Linked DNA regions of Homo sapiens: region 2 is reported to be linked to region 1. The links are microRNA targets in miRTarBase. Many come from high-throughput screens and were not tested one by one. Region 1 holds a microRNA gene; the other region holds the end of a gene's coding sequence.
Evidence for each region. Region 1 holds the annotated microRNA hsa-miR-760 (CGGCUCUGGGUCUGUGGGGA, at 3,065-3,084, opposite strand). A microRNA usually pairs through its seed, bases 2 to 8, with sites in the 3' UTR of a target mRNA and lowers its output. Matches are read on the target gene's strand: a 7mer-m8 pairs with bases 2 to 8, a 7mer-A1 pairs with bases 2 to 7 and ends in A, and an 8mer does both.

Region 2: miRTarBase lists FAM193A as a target of hsa-miR-760. Seed matches in the 3' UTR shown: 7mer-A1 at 6,288-6,294 and 7mer-m8 at 6,263-6,269.

The regions. Positions count from the first base shown.
Region 1 is chr1:93,842,846-93,849,963 of GRCh38, reverse strand. MIR760 (microRNA 760) reads right to left here and starts at 3,132; the gene lies at 3,053-3,132. TRR-TCT1-1 (tRNA-Arg (anticodon TCT) 1-1) reads right to left here and starts at 2,391; the gene lies at 2,307-2,391. It also overlaps a transcript of BCAR3 not described here. RefSeq lists enhancers at 1,982-2,031, 2,246-3,036, 3,712-3,841 and silencers at 2,732-2,871, 3,052-3,431, 3,522-3,581.
Region 2 is chr4:2,731,100-2,738,217 of GRCh38, reverse strand. FAM193A (family with sequence similarity 193 member A) reads right to left here. Exons shown (of 21, transcript NM_001366318.2): 21 at 5,645-6,443. The coding sequence ends at 6,350. Among named protein-coding and RNA genes, the nearest start is that of TNIP2, 22 kb to the left of the region's middle.

The sequences.
Region 1 (7,118 bases):
CACCTGTAATCCCAGCTACTCAGGAGGCTGAGGCAAGAGAATTGCTTGAACCTGGGAGGTGGAGGTTGCAGTGAACTGAGATTTGTGCCGCTGCACTCCAGCCTGGGCAACAGAGCAAGACTCTGTCTCAAAAAAAAAAATTATAAATGTGGCATTTCAAATGACATCGTGTAGAAAAGAAGGAGTGTTCATTAAAAGTGATTTTGGGACAAAACTTCCACTTCACTCCTTATACAAAAACACATTCCAGATGAAGCAAAGATAAACAAAACCATAAAAATAAAGCCATTAAAGAAATAACTTAATAATCTGAGTGTATTATGGCCCCAAACCTAGAAGCCATAAAAGACTGATAAATCCAAATACATGAATCATGAATTTCTGTAAGACAGAAAAACAAAACAAAATACCATAAACAAAGTCAAACGACAAAAAGACTGAAAAAGAATAAGTGTAACATATATCACAAAGGGCTGTTTTCCATCATACCACAGAAAAATGAACACAACTCAAGAACAGATAAATCACAGGAAAAAAATTACAAATTATTCTCTGTATGGAAAGGTACTCATCTTGATTCATAATAAAAGACACAGTCCAGGCGTAGTAGCTCCTGTCTGTCATCCCAGCACTTAGGGAGGCCAAGATGGGAGGATTTCTTGAGTCCAGGAGTTCAAGACCAGCCTAGACAACATAGAGTGACCCCCATCTCTACAAAAAATTTTAAAATTAGCCGGGTGTGTTGGCATGTGCCTGTACTTCCAACTATTTGGGAGGCTGAGGTGGAAGCACTGCTTGAGCCCAGGACGTTGAGGGTGCAATGAGCTGTGATAGTGCCACTGCACTCCAGTCTGGGCAACAGAACAAGACCCTGTCTCAAATAATAATAATAATAATATAAATACAAATTTTAAAAAATCAATATAAGAGACGAATTAAAATCACAGCTAGAAACCACCTTTTGTGAGTTGTGGGGAAACAGGCACTCTCACACATTGCTAAGGAGAGAAAAATGGATACAATCTCTATGGGGCAATTTGCCAATATATATTAAAAAATGTACAGATTAAGAACGCACAAACCTTTGAACCAGCAATTCAACTTTCTAGGAATCTATCCTACAGATAGATGTACCTGTACTTGTGTACAATAATAAAAGAACAAGGATGTTCACTGATGCATTGTTTGTAATAGGAAAATACTGGCAATCTAAATGTCCAGCTATTAGGGACTGTTAAATCATTACCATACATACGTACAATGGAACGAGGCAGCTCTACATATATTCATAAGTAAAACAAGCCAGTATAGCATACTACCATTGTGTTTTTAAAAGGATATGTATCAATAACATTGTTATTTACGACATATTTATGACAAAAGATGTTAAAAATGCTGATATGGGCATAAAATAAATCTGAAAATATTTCCAAGAAACCATTACCACTAATGGCTTGTGGAGAGAATTGCAAGGCTGGACTATAGGAATAACATGGATGTTTACTTTTCCCTGTATCTTTTTTGACAATTTTGGATTTTGTATCTTTTGTGTGAATTACCTTTCATTGTTGTTTTACGAGTTTTAAGATTCCATTCATTCCTGGATTTATTTGCTAACCTTGTACAAAGTTAACAGTTGTCAGAAAAAGATATAGTAATTCCTGTCTTGAGGAGCTGATGGGCACTGGGCCTAGGACCTCTTTGCACTGGAATAATGGGGGAGGGGAGCGGGTGACCTTATCAGAAATGCAGATTCCTGGGCCCCACCCCAGACGGACCGAATTAAGAGTCCCAGAGTGACGGCAGAAATCTCCATTTTTGACGGGCTCCCGCTGGGATTCGGGTGTCTGCTCATCTGGAAGCCTCCATGCTGGAGAGGTAGTCAGCACAGCGCACGCAGGGCGTAGGCGTGTTTTCTCGTCCCTCCCTCGCAACCACAGTCCCGCTCAAGGCGTGGGGGTGTCACCCGAGACCCGGGCCTCCCCTGCACTTTCCTTTAGGCCGAAACCGCGAGCCTTCGCTTCAGTGTCGCTTTTCCTTCGCCGCCGCCGCCGCCGCCGCCGCCGCTCTTCTCAGGACCTACATCGACTGCCCAGTCGGCTGAGCTGGGCCCTGGGCCACCGAGGCCCGGGGAGCTGAGGGGCTCGGGACCCTGCGAGCCGCTTAAGAAAGGACCGCAAGAACCGAATGCAGTGAACTGCGAGAGCAGGGAATGAGAGAGAAGTTAAACCGTTTAGCAAAAAAAAAAAATAAGAGACATGATGGAGGCAGAAAATAAATTGTAGGGGGGAGGGAAAAAAGCGTTACGACTCCGCCGGGACTCGAACCCGGAACCTTTGAATGCCTTCAGCCTCTAGAAGTCCAATGCGCTATCCATTGCGCCACGGAGCCACCTGTTGGAGTCTCAGCGCATCTGCTATGTTAAGCCAGAGGCGACGGCCCCGCGCTCTTCCGACCGCGCCTCCCGTCGTCAGTGTCACCGAGACCCAGCCGCCGCGCTCAGGGCACTGCCATCCGCCTCAAACGCCAGCCGCAGGCTCTCGGTCTCCCCGCAGTGGTCGCCCCTCAACAAGGTCGGCGACCCAGTTGAGCCAAGGGCGGCCGCAGTCCGACGGTCCCACCTGGTCGGTGTGAGGGCAGCCGCAACCCGGTCCCCTTCACGGTCCGGGCCCAGCCGTACGAATCACAGTCGCGCTTTTCCCTCCCCGGCTCCCTTCCTGCCCCAAGCGCCCCGCCTACCAGGTCTCTCCGGCGGCCGCTCCAGCCCGGCCGGGACCCCAGAGTTGCAGGCCCAGGCCAGCCGTTGCACCGTTAAGCCGGGCCGGTGACGCCGGGCCTTTACGTCGCGCCTGTGAGCGGCCGAGGCCGAGCGGCCTCCCCTCGGGCTGCGAGACGTAAGCGGCGACCCCTCTCGGGCCTGGGCTCTTCCCTCGCGCCCGGCCGCCGCGCCCGACCCAGCCGCGGCTGGACCTGCGCGCGAGCGCCGCCGCGCGACGTCTGTGTGCGTGCTTGTGCGTGTTTATTTGCGCGGGGTTCGAAAAACGGGGTTTGGGTTGCATTTCGCTCCCCACAGACCCAGAGCCGAATTTCTGAGGTATCCGGGCTCTGGTGGACTGAGGGGGGCGACGCGCCCCGCGCCGCAGCATCCTCCGAGAGCTCGTCTTGCCGCCAGCACCTGCCTCCAAGGACGCCGCGCAGCTGCCCCGAGCCCGCGCGCCCGGGGCCCGCGACTGCGTGGGCGGAAGCCGGGAGGGTGTCAGCACGCGTGGGAGCGCTGGGAGCATGCGTATGCGGGTGCATGTGGTCGGAGGGCGCGCGCTCGAGCGCGGCCGCGGGGTTTCCTGGTGGCTGCGAGCGGTGGGGACGGCAGCGGGCCTGGCGCCGCTGCCCAGAAGGGTGCGGTCGCCACGAATCTGAGAGGCGGCTGGGTGGGGGCCGGCAGGTTTCCAGTGCCCGCAGTGATCCCCATCCGCAAGACCCCGAAGCCCTTTGAAATAGACGGTCAAAGCCGCGTGGTTGCTCTGCGACTGCAGCGGCGAGACCGAACGCCCGGCCCCCGTTCCTATTAGCTCACAGCAGTCCCGGCCCCGCCTACGGAGGATTCGCAGGGCGGCCGCTGGGCGCGCTTTCTCGGCTCGGCCACAGCCCGTTTCTGCACCAAACCCGCCAGCCGCGGCCCACCCTGTGCTTCACCCATACCCGCCCCTGCCCAGCATCGCCAGGCCTCAAATGCAGAATAGTCTCTGGCAGAGTTCAAAGAGGGAAAGGGAAGTCCTGGGAAGAGTCCAGTGTGGTAGGGATTTTACAGTCTTACTTAACCCCAAGACGAAGCTATGGGGCGGGTACATACACACCACCGTCCCCTTTATAATATAAAGAAGGGAAACTGCAGCTAAGAGAGGTTAAAAAACTCGTGTAGGGACGCCCAGCTAGTGAGCGTGGAGAACTGTGATGAATCATATTTTGTTATGTTTGCAAACTAACACGTTAGCTTTCACGGTTTCATGAATGCTGACAGAACACACCAGACTTCTGAGTCAGAGATAAAAGACTATTACAACAAAAGCAATAGCCAGAGTATCACCATTTTTGAGTTGGCTCCCTGGACCCCAGTTCTCACAGGAACGAAGCACACGGGCCCAGATGCATGCTTACACACAAGATGGGTTGCATTACAGAAGAGGAATGCTGAGCTTGGGGAACCCACCATGTTATAGTGAGCAGTAAGCAAGCCTGCTCTTTGTTCCATAGGGAGACATTACCTCATCCCTCAAGATTGCTCGCTGCAAACACAACGCTGAGAAATGGCCCAAGTAAAGCGTGATCAGGGTCTTGCATTCTTGGCACATCTAGGAAGAACGTGCAAGGATGCGAATTGTGAATCGCTTCTCCAAACAGTAAGTGGCAGAGCCCTGATTGGTGCCAGGCCTATTTAATTATACTCTAATGTAAACAAAGTTTTATATATATATATATATATATATATATATATATATATATAAAATTGTTATGCCCCTTTAATGAATTAAATGTCTTCACATTGCATGCAGGGAGAATTCTCATATGGATAAAATTAGCCTTTAAAATGGAATATGGTTTTAAATTGTATTTATTTAAACAAATCTTTTTTGAATTCTGAAATATGCCAGGCACTGGTGGCATCTCAGGGTCTCCACTGGTCTTAGGAGTTGCTCACAGCCGAAATGGGAGAAGAGATGCTCTGTATGCCTGTGGGAAAACCATACAGAGGAATTCTGCCTGGGGTATTGGAGCCAAATCTCAAATGATGAGGAGTCATTGACGTGATTAAGTGACAGTTGAGATGCGTATATAAAAATTCTGGAAAGGGGGAATTGGGAAAGAAACAATGTGCTAAGGAAAGATGTGTATGTGTTTGATTCCACTTAATGATTCAAACGAATAATTTTAGATATTTTATTCCACTAGATGAAGCCAAAAAAATTCCTGTATCATGGAAAATATTAGAGATACAGTGTTAGCAGACAGTGTGGGAAAGCCAGGCTTTCCCTGTGCAGCCTTCTGTGAGCTATCAAGGTTGTACTTCTTATACCCTGCAATTAGAAGACTGGGGCCAGGTGCAGTGACTCACGCCTGTAATTCCAGCACTTCTGGAGGCTGAGGCGGGAGGATCACTTGAGGCCAGGAGCTTGAGGTTACAGTGAGCTATGATCGCGCCACTGCACTCCAGCCTGGGCGACAGAATGAGACCCCATCTCCAAAAGAAAAAAAAAAAAAAAAAGAAGAAAGTCACAGCCAAACAAGGTCAGGTGTGTGGTGGTTCTCTGAACAATTAACTAAGCAGTTTATAGGTAGCAATGTTAGCATGTAAGAAAAATGAAAAGAGTATTTAGTTGCCATCTGGGGAGAAAGATTCAGTGGGTGTTGTCTTCCCCTTATCTAATCTGGCTGAATTTTCTCAGGCTGTATCTGTAGTAAACAGCCATTATACAACCTGAGCTAAGAATTCCCGCAAGTGAGAAAGCAACCTCTTCCTGCCAACAGAGGGAGTCAAAGCATGGGTTATAACCACTTTCAATTAGGCTGATTGCAGCACATCTGCAGTTTGAGTTCGCTGGACAGCAAAGCCCTAAATTAAATACGGTTTCATGTTGGTGTTTTATTTTTATTTTTATTTTGAGACAGAGTCTCACTCTATCACCCAGGCTGGAGTGCAATGGCATGATCTTGGCTCACTGCAACCTCCATTTCCCGAGTTGAAGCAATTCTCCTGCCTCAGCCTCCTAAGTAGCTGGGATTACAGGCACGTGCCACCACACCCGGCTAATTTTTGTATTTTTAATGGAGATGGGGTTTCACCATGTTGTCCAGGCAGGTCTTGAACTCCTGACCTTGTGACCTGCCTGCTTCGGCCTCCCAAAGTGAGGCGTGAGCTACCGTGCCTGGCCAGCAGGATTATTTTTAAGTTACTGTGTGGTTAGTGATTTCGGCCTTCCCAGAAGCTCTGGAAATGGACTATACTTCTACTGTATATATTTGCACTAGCTTTGCTTTACTCCAGAGGTATAAGGTTGCTGGAGTACCAGTTTTATTCAATTCAATGAGTAGGGACAATACAGTTAGGCCTACTGTGGGAACCAAGTGAAAGTTTAAGACATAATTCCTACCTTCAAGGACACTCCAAATTTCCTAGGAGAAATACGATTTATGAATATGAAGCAATAAGCAAATGAAGCAAGGTAGCATGTGAAAAAGTGGCATAATGTGACTGGGCATTCCTACCGGTAAAAATTTTTCAGTTTGGACCCCCAAGGAACCAGGATGCTCTATTATACTACTAATAAAACATACCTAAAAAGGAATTTTTAAAGGGTGAGATTTAAAAAACAAACAAACAAAAACTGTGGTAGTAGCAGTTAAGAGTACAGCCTGTGGAGTCAGGACCCTGTCATTCAAATCTTGGTTCAGCCTTTATTTGCAGGACATGATCCTTAACTTCTCTGCCTGAAAAATTATAAAATTGTTATGAGAATTGCAAGAGTTAATCCTCTCAAGGACTTGTCTCAGTTCTGGCACATGGTAAGTGTGTAACAAATATTTGCTATTATATTAGTAAGTAGCTCTTAATAAAGAAATCCCACATCCTGCAGAAACAAAGGACAGTACAGATACAGCATCAGCTAAATTTGTTGCAACCGGAGGGACATTCTGCAGCTCCCTACCCCACTCCTACTCAGCTGTACATTTCATTTCTGTTACCGAACAGAACACTTAGCTTCTCAGACTGAAGACATCTACCTTCAGCTTCAATTCCTCACAGTTCTTAGTTCAAGAACCTTAGGCACATTTTTATTTTCATTTGTCCCACCCACCACATGGTTTCCCAAGACAAGGGTACCATCCACCCTTAAGGACTTAAGAAGACTCATTTCTTGCTAGAAAAATCTACTCACAACGTTGAAATGAAGGCCTTTTTCATCCTAAAATCTACTCACAACATTGAAATGAAGGGCTTTTTCATCCTAAAATATCTCAGTGCTGAGTGTGATTACTGAGCCAGGCCAATAGCCAAACCACATTAGGTGGCCAGGCAGGAACAGGGGAAGGAAAAGAAAATTTTCCAGGATGAAGAAAAACAT
Region 2 (7,118 bases), not on the chromosome of region 1:
GATGGGCAGTTCAGGTCATATGGTGACTTGATGACCCATAGTCAAACATTCAGTTTCCACCAAAGCCCAGTAACAGGCCAAGAGCTGTCTCTCAAAAGGAGAGTAGTTAGCTGCAGAAGATGGCAGGGCCATCTTCTCCAGATCCTACAGGCCTCCGCTGTGATTCACCTATGGGGTGAAAATCCTACAGGCCTCCACTGTGATTCACCTATGGGGGCCTGCCAAAGGCTCCAAACAGCATCCCTATCTGCTACTGACGCCTCAAGCACCATTGGATCGCTGGGTCATATGGCCCAAGTGGCAGAGCAGCTTGCACAGCAGCCTGGACCTGTTGCAGAGCCTTCTCCTGTTCTGGACCCCACTCAAAACTGGCAGCCTTTTAGGTCACTAGATAAATGGGCTGGAGTAACACATCTAAGTGAGGAATGTGTTGCCTCCAAAATCCAAATAGACCCACTAAGCATTGTGGATCTTCTTGGTTGTAGGAGGGACCAAATGAGGCGACTTATCCTTCACCTTGGAAGGAATATCTTGACAGGCCCCACACCACGGGAGCCCTAGAAAGTTTACTGAGATAGAAGTTCCCTGAAAAAAAAATTTTTTTTTTTTTTTGAGACAGAGTCTCACTCTGTTGCCCAGTCTGGAGTGCAGTGGCATGATCTCGGCTCACTGCAAGCTCCGCCCCCCGGGTTCACGCCATTCTCCTGCCTCAGCCTCCCGAGTAGCTGGGACTACAGGCGCCTGCCACCATGCAGGGCTTTTTTTTTTTTTTTTTTTTTTTTTTGGTATCTTTAGTAGAGACGGGGTTTCACCATGTTAGCCAGGATGGTCTCAATCTCCTGACCTCATGATCCACCTGCCTCAGCCTCCCAAAGTGCAGGGATTACAGGCTTGAGCCACCATGCCCAGCTGAAATTTTTTTTTTTTTTTGAGACAGAGTCTTGCTCTGTTGCCCAAGCTGGAGTGCAGTGGCAATCTCAGCTCACTGCAACCTCCGCCTCCGGGGCTCAAGTGATTATCCTGCCTCAGCCTCCGAAGTAGCTGGGACTACAGGTGCGCACCACAACACCCAACTAATTTTTGTATTTTTAGTAGACATGGGGTTTCACTATGTTGGCCAGGCTGGTCTTGAACTCCTGACCTCGTGATCCGCCTGCCTGGGCCTAACTGCTTTGGCTAGAACCTCTAGCACAATGTTGAATAGAAACTGCAAAACAGATATCTTTGCCTTGTTCCTGATCTTAGGGGGAAAGCATGCGGTCTTTCACAACATTAAGGATGATATTAACAGTGAATTTTTTGTAGATGTCATTCTTCAGGTTGAGGAAGTTCTCTTCTATTCACACTTGGTGAAATGTCTTTATTATGCAAAAGTGTTGGATTTTGTCAAATGCTTTTTTTGCATCTATTGAGATGATCATGCAATTAAAATTTCGATTAATATGATTACATTAAGTATGTGTTGGATATTGAACCACCCTTACATTCCTGGGATTCCACTTGATCACGGTGTATATTTCTTTTCTTATATTGCTGGATTTGGTTTTCTAGTATTTTGTTGAGGAATTTTGCATCAATATTCATGAGATAATAGTCTGTAGTTTTCTTGTGATGTCTTTGTCTAGTTTTGGTATCAAGGTAATACTGGCCTCACAGAATTAGTTGGGAAGTGTTCCTTCTTCTATTTCTGAAAGTTTGAAAAATTGGTTTTAATTCTTCTCTAACTGTATGGTAAAATGCAGCAGTGAAGACTTCTAGGCTTGAGCTTTTGTGGGTACTTTTCCCTGTTTTAAATTACTATTTCAACATCTTCACTCATTATAGGTCTATTCAGATTGTCTATTTCTTCTGGAGTCAGTTCTTGTAGCTTCTTCCTGTCTAGAAATTTGTCCATCTCATCTGCTATGGTTTATATGTTCATATGTTAGAACTTAGTGCCCAAGGTGATAGTATTAAGAGGTGGGGCCTTCTGGGAAGTGTTCAAATCATGAGTGCTCCATCATCATGAAAGGGATTACAGCTTTTATAAAAGAGGTTGAAGGGATCACCTTAATTCCCCTTTTTGCCCTTCTACCATATGAAGATACAGCAACAAGGTGCCACTTTGGAAGCAGAGAGTGAGCCCTTACCAGACACTGAATCTGTTGGTGCACTTTGCTCTTGAACTTCACAGCTTCCAGAACTGTGAGAAATAAACTTCTATTATTTATAAATTACTCAGTCTGTGATATTTGGTCATAGCTGCATGAATGGACTAAGATATCATCTAAATTACCAAATTTGCTGGCATATAATTGTTCTAGTATTCCTTTAAAATCCTTTTTCTGTGTGGCCAGTTCTGATTCTAGTAATTTGAATCCTTCCCTGGTCAATCTTGCTACAGATGTCTATTTTGTTTACCTTTTTAAAACTTTTGGTTTTGTTGATTTTCTCCATTATTTTTGCATCCTCTATTTCATTAATTTCTGATCTAATTTTTATGATTTTATTCCTTCTGCTTACTTTAGGCCTAGTTTGCTCTTTTTCCAGTGTCTTAAGGTGACAAGTTAGTTTATTGATTTGAGTGAGATCTTTCTTGTTTCTTAATATAAACATTTTCAACTTCTGGGATACATGTTACTATTTTTCAATTTGGGAGGTTTTCGACTATTATTTCTTTGAATATTTTTTTTGCTCTTTGCTCTCCTTTTGATATTCCCATTATACATAGGCTGGTATGCTTAATGGTGTCCCACATTTTTCTGAGACTCTTTATTTTCATTATTTTTTTCTCTATGTTCTTTGGCTGGCATAATCTCCATCAGCCTATCTTCAAATCCACTTATTTTTCCTTCTGCTAATTTTAAAATTTAGGCTGGGTGCAGTGGCTCATGCCTGTAATCTCAGCACTTTGGGAGGCCAAGGTGGGCAGCTCACCTGAGGTCAGGAGTTTGAGACCAGCCTGACCAACACAGTGAAACACCGTCTCAACAAAAAATACAAAAATTAGCCAGGCATGGTGGTGTGTAACTATAGTCCCAGCTACTGCGGAGGCTGAGACAGGAGAATCACTTGAACCCAGGAGTTGGAGGTTGCAGTGAGCCAAAATGGTGCCACTGCACTCCAGCCTGGGTGACAGAGCAAGACTCCATCTGTCTCTCTCTGTGTGTGTGTATATATATGTGTGTGTGTATATATATGTGTGTGTATATATATACACACGTAACTTTTCAGATTCCATAATTTCCATTTGGTTCCTTTAAAATAATTTCTATATTCATTTGATGCAGCCTTATTATATCATTGTTTTCTTTCTACTACCCACTAGTATTCCAGCTATGATGTTGCTCCTCAGGGTGTGTAGCTTTGCGTATGCCCACAGTCACCCTGGGATGACAGTCATTTTGGTAGAGTTCTCTTCCTCTTTCCCTGACCACATTCATTAAACCACTAATTGCCAATTCTATTGTTTTCAACAATGCCCTGGGGCACCATGCTCTACAAACAAATCCAATCAAATTCTGACTCCTTTGAAGAGAGAGTTTCTGGGAACACTGTGTGATATTCCTTCTGACCCCTGGATGCCTTCTCCCAGCTCTTTTCTTCAGTTACCTCCTGCAAACTATCTGGCCTGTAGCTGAGCCTGCATCTTGTCTCTCTTCCCAGGGTTTCATGGCCTCCACTGTTTCTGAGTGCCTTCAGGCTTGAACCTCTTCATTCTTTGTTGCAAACAAAGTCAGTTTCTTTGGGAAGAGATTAGGAGCTATCTGTTTTACTGCCTGTTTCTCTACCCAGGCAAAATCTCTGAGCAGGGCTCAGAGCTGAGGGTGCAGAAAACAGTAAGCTTCTCAATACAACTGTTCACTGTTAAAGTTTCCTTTCTAACTATTGTTATTGTTTCATTTCATGACTATTACAGGTTGAGTATGCCTAACCCGAAAGGTTCCAAAATTCAAATCCTTTTGAGTGTTAAGATGATGCTCCAAGGAAATGCTCATTGGAGCATTTTGGATTTCAGATTTTTGGATTAGAAATGCTCAATTGGTAAGCATGATGTAAATACTCCAAATCCAAAAAAGTCTGAAACTGGACACACTTCTGGTACTGAGGATGCCAGATAAGGGATAAGGGATACTCACCCTGTGCTACTGTGTGAGTCAAAAATGTGAGGCTCCCCTATGGCGGCCCCACCCTCCCCCACAGGGAAGTGATGTCATCAGGAACCCCAGGGGCTCCCATCAAGTCAGGGACCCTGGAGCTGGATGTCCTATAAGCACCCTGGGATGCTGGAAGGATGAGTGGTTTCCAGGGAAATAGAGGAAGATCCTTCCTGGCAAGGGCATGGCCAGGACAATGGCTGGGAGCCTGAGGGCCAAAGCTAGCAGGTGCAGGTCAGGGGCCAGAGCGGGCAGAGCTGTGAAGCCGCAGGCAGGGTTGCCATGGAGGTGATGGGAGTGCCCAGAACTGGGCATGTGCGGTGGGCGTCTGAGGGTCTCTAGGTCCCAGCATGATGCTTAGTGTGTCGGGGCACCCAGAGTTCCCCATCACCACTCAGGGCTGTGCAGTTCCCCTCAGCAACAGGCATGGTTCAGCACAGTGTTAAAGGCTGTCCATGGGGAGAGCAGGGCAGGTACTGGGGGCCTGGGCAGGCAGCTTCCCCATAGGGCGAGGCCCGGGCCTGGGCCTTTCCCCAGCCACCACCGCAGCCAGAAGAGGCAGCGGCTGGAGTCCCGGGGGCCTGCACTGGGGTTTCAAGGACACTACTGTTGCCGTGGTCATGGCCTGACCTGCTTCACTCTCTGCCCTATCATCCCACGAACAAAGGAACGTTCTCTTCCTCACACCTGGAAAAAAAAACAAGTGAGGAAAGTTCGTCGTGCTGCACCTCCCCTGGTTGGTGACCCTTTTCCAGCTTTCGTGCAATCTCCAGAGTTCTAGGACCTGCTGTCCCCACCTCATTCTCCTGCAAACCGGTGCCTGGGTGGGGGTGCCCTGGGCCTTGTCTCCCCTGACCTGCCTCGAAGCCTCCTCACCCTCCTCTGCCTTCCTGGTTCCACAGCTCGGGCCCCCATCCCATCTACTCACCCCTGCAGGGCCCTCACACAGGCTCTGTCCATGAACAGCAGTCCCCAGTTCCAGACCTCTCACCTGGGTGGCCGGTGGACATCCCAGACTCACCATCCAGAACTGGTCTCCAGTCCCACCTCCAGGCACACAGCGCAGGTCTTCACCTCTTTCTCCTACCTGCATCCTGTCCACCAGGAAATCCTGTGGCCTCATCGTCCGAATACCTCCAGAAGCTGGCTCTCCCTACCCTCTCCCCAACCAGGCCCTGCCCTATTCACCTTCACTCAGAGTGAAGTCATACTCTGATAGGGCACACAGAGACAGGCTGAACATGAGGCTGGGAGAAGTGGGAGCTACTGAGTGTTCTAGGTAGTAAGAAGTAACCAGGATGCAGCTCCTTGGGAGCTTTCTGTCTCCTGCTGCCTGCTCTGCCTGGCACACAGAGGATGGTGGGGGCACCAGGATGGGTGAGCCGTTGCCTGGAGAGACCTGGGACCTGCTCCGGGGTGGTGCCCTGGCTCCCCATGGCGGACACATCACCTACACGCCCTCTCCCGCTATCCCCCCACTCCCCCAGCAGAAAGAAGCAGCCGAGGTCTCCTGCTGTACTAATGTATTCCATCTTTCAAAAAGAAAGACATGATTTTAATATTACTTAACAATATGTTAAAAAAGTAGCCAGGCAGGCCTCCGTGTTAATACAGTCGTACACTCTATAACAGACTTGATGGTGTGAGTACTGGGTGGGCTTGTTTTTAACTTTCTCGTTCTGCAAGGGATCTTACACAAGCTGGCTACAAGTCAGGGGGATCAAACACAAACAGCGCAACGTGTACACTCGGAGACAGTAGATTGTGGAGAACAAAGGAGGCCTGCCCCGCCCAGCCCGCCTAGGGTGAGACGCAGGGGCACAGGAGAGCTGAGTGACGGCCGATACCCCGGTGAGGACACATGACAGGACAGGGCGCAATGCAGAGGCAACGGAGCCACGTGGATGATGCAAACTCCTATCTGGCCACGGCCCAGGCCTCCGAGGCCGCGGTGGTGGGAGGACTTGGCGGGAACTACTGTTCCAATCCGACAGCACAGAGCTACAATCGAAGGAGTCTCACGCACAGACTACACGCACACGAGCTAACGGCGTGGGCCGAGCATCAACTTCTCGGTCTGGGGTTTCAGGCAGCACCAGCTCCGCACAGCCCTTGGCAAGCACCACGGCTCTGGGGCGCCAGCGAGGGGCGTGGCTCTTGGGGTGGTGCAGCCTGGCCTGCCTCTCGCGTGTCCCTCTCCAGGGAGTCCTCATTCAGTGGGCAGCAAAGGTGGCTTTTTTCAAGCTAAAATTGGACCAGTTGATAGACAGTCTTTGTCGGGTCTGTCTAGCAGAATCCAAGCAGAACCTGCAAAGACAAAAAGCCAAACAGTCACTGAAGGAAACAGCCCACAACCAAGCTGGTGCTTGGCAAAGCCCATCACACTCCTGTTCTTGCCAGAAACTCACTGCGGGGTCAGGGGTTTAGATTCTCGGTGAGGGGCACAGTGTCAAGGGTCCCCTCCAGGCCCTGCTACAGGCTGCACTTGAGAAGGGGAAAGGACTCGGGAGGAGGAATGGGTGGGCGGAAGGAGTCCTGAGAAAGAAAAGAAACGTTTAATCTGAGAGCTGTGAGCGCCCTTAAATTATCAGGCCCAGGCAGGGTGTGGTGGCTCATACCTGTAATCCCAGCACTTTGGGAGGCTGAGGAGGGCAAATCACTTCAACTTAGGAGTTCGAGACCAGCCTGGGCAACATGGTGAAATCCTTTTTTTTTTGAGACAGGGTCTCACTCTCTTGCCCAGGCTGGAGTTCAGTGGCAGTTTCGGCTCACTGCAACCTCCACCTCCAAGGTTCAAGCAATTCTCTGCCTCAGCCTCCCAAGTAGCTAGGACTACAGGCATGTACCACCACACCGGTTTTTTTTTTTTTTTTTTTTTTTTTTTTGAGAAGGAGTTTCGCTCTTGTCATCCAGGCTAGAGTGCAATGGCACAATCTCAGCTCACTGAAGCCTCCGCCTCCCACGTTGAAGTGATTCTCCTGC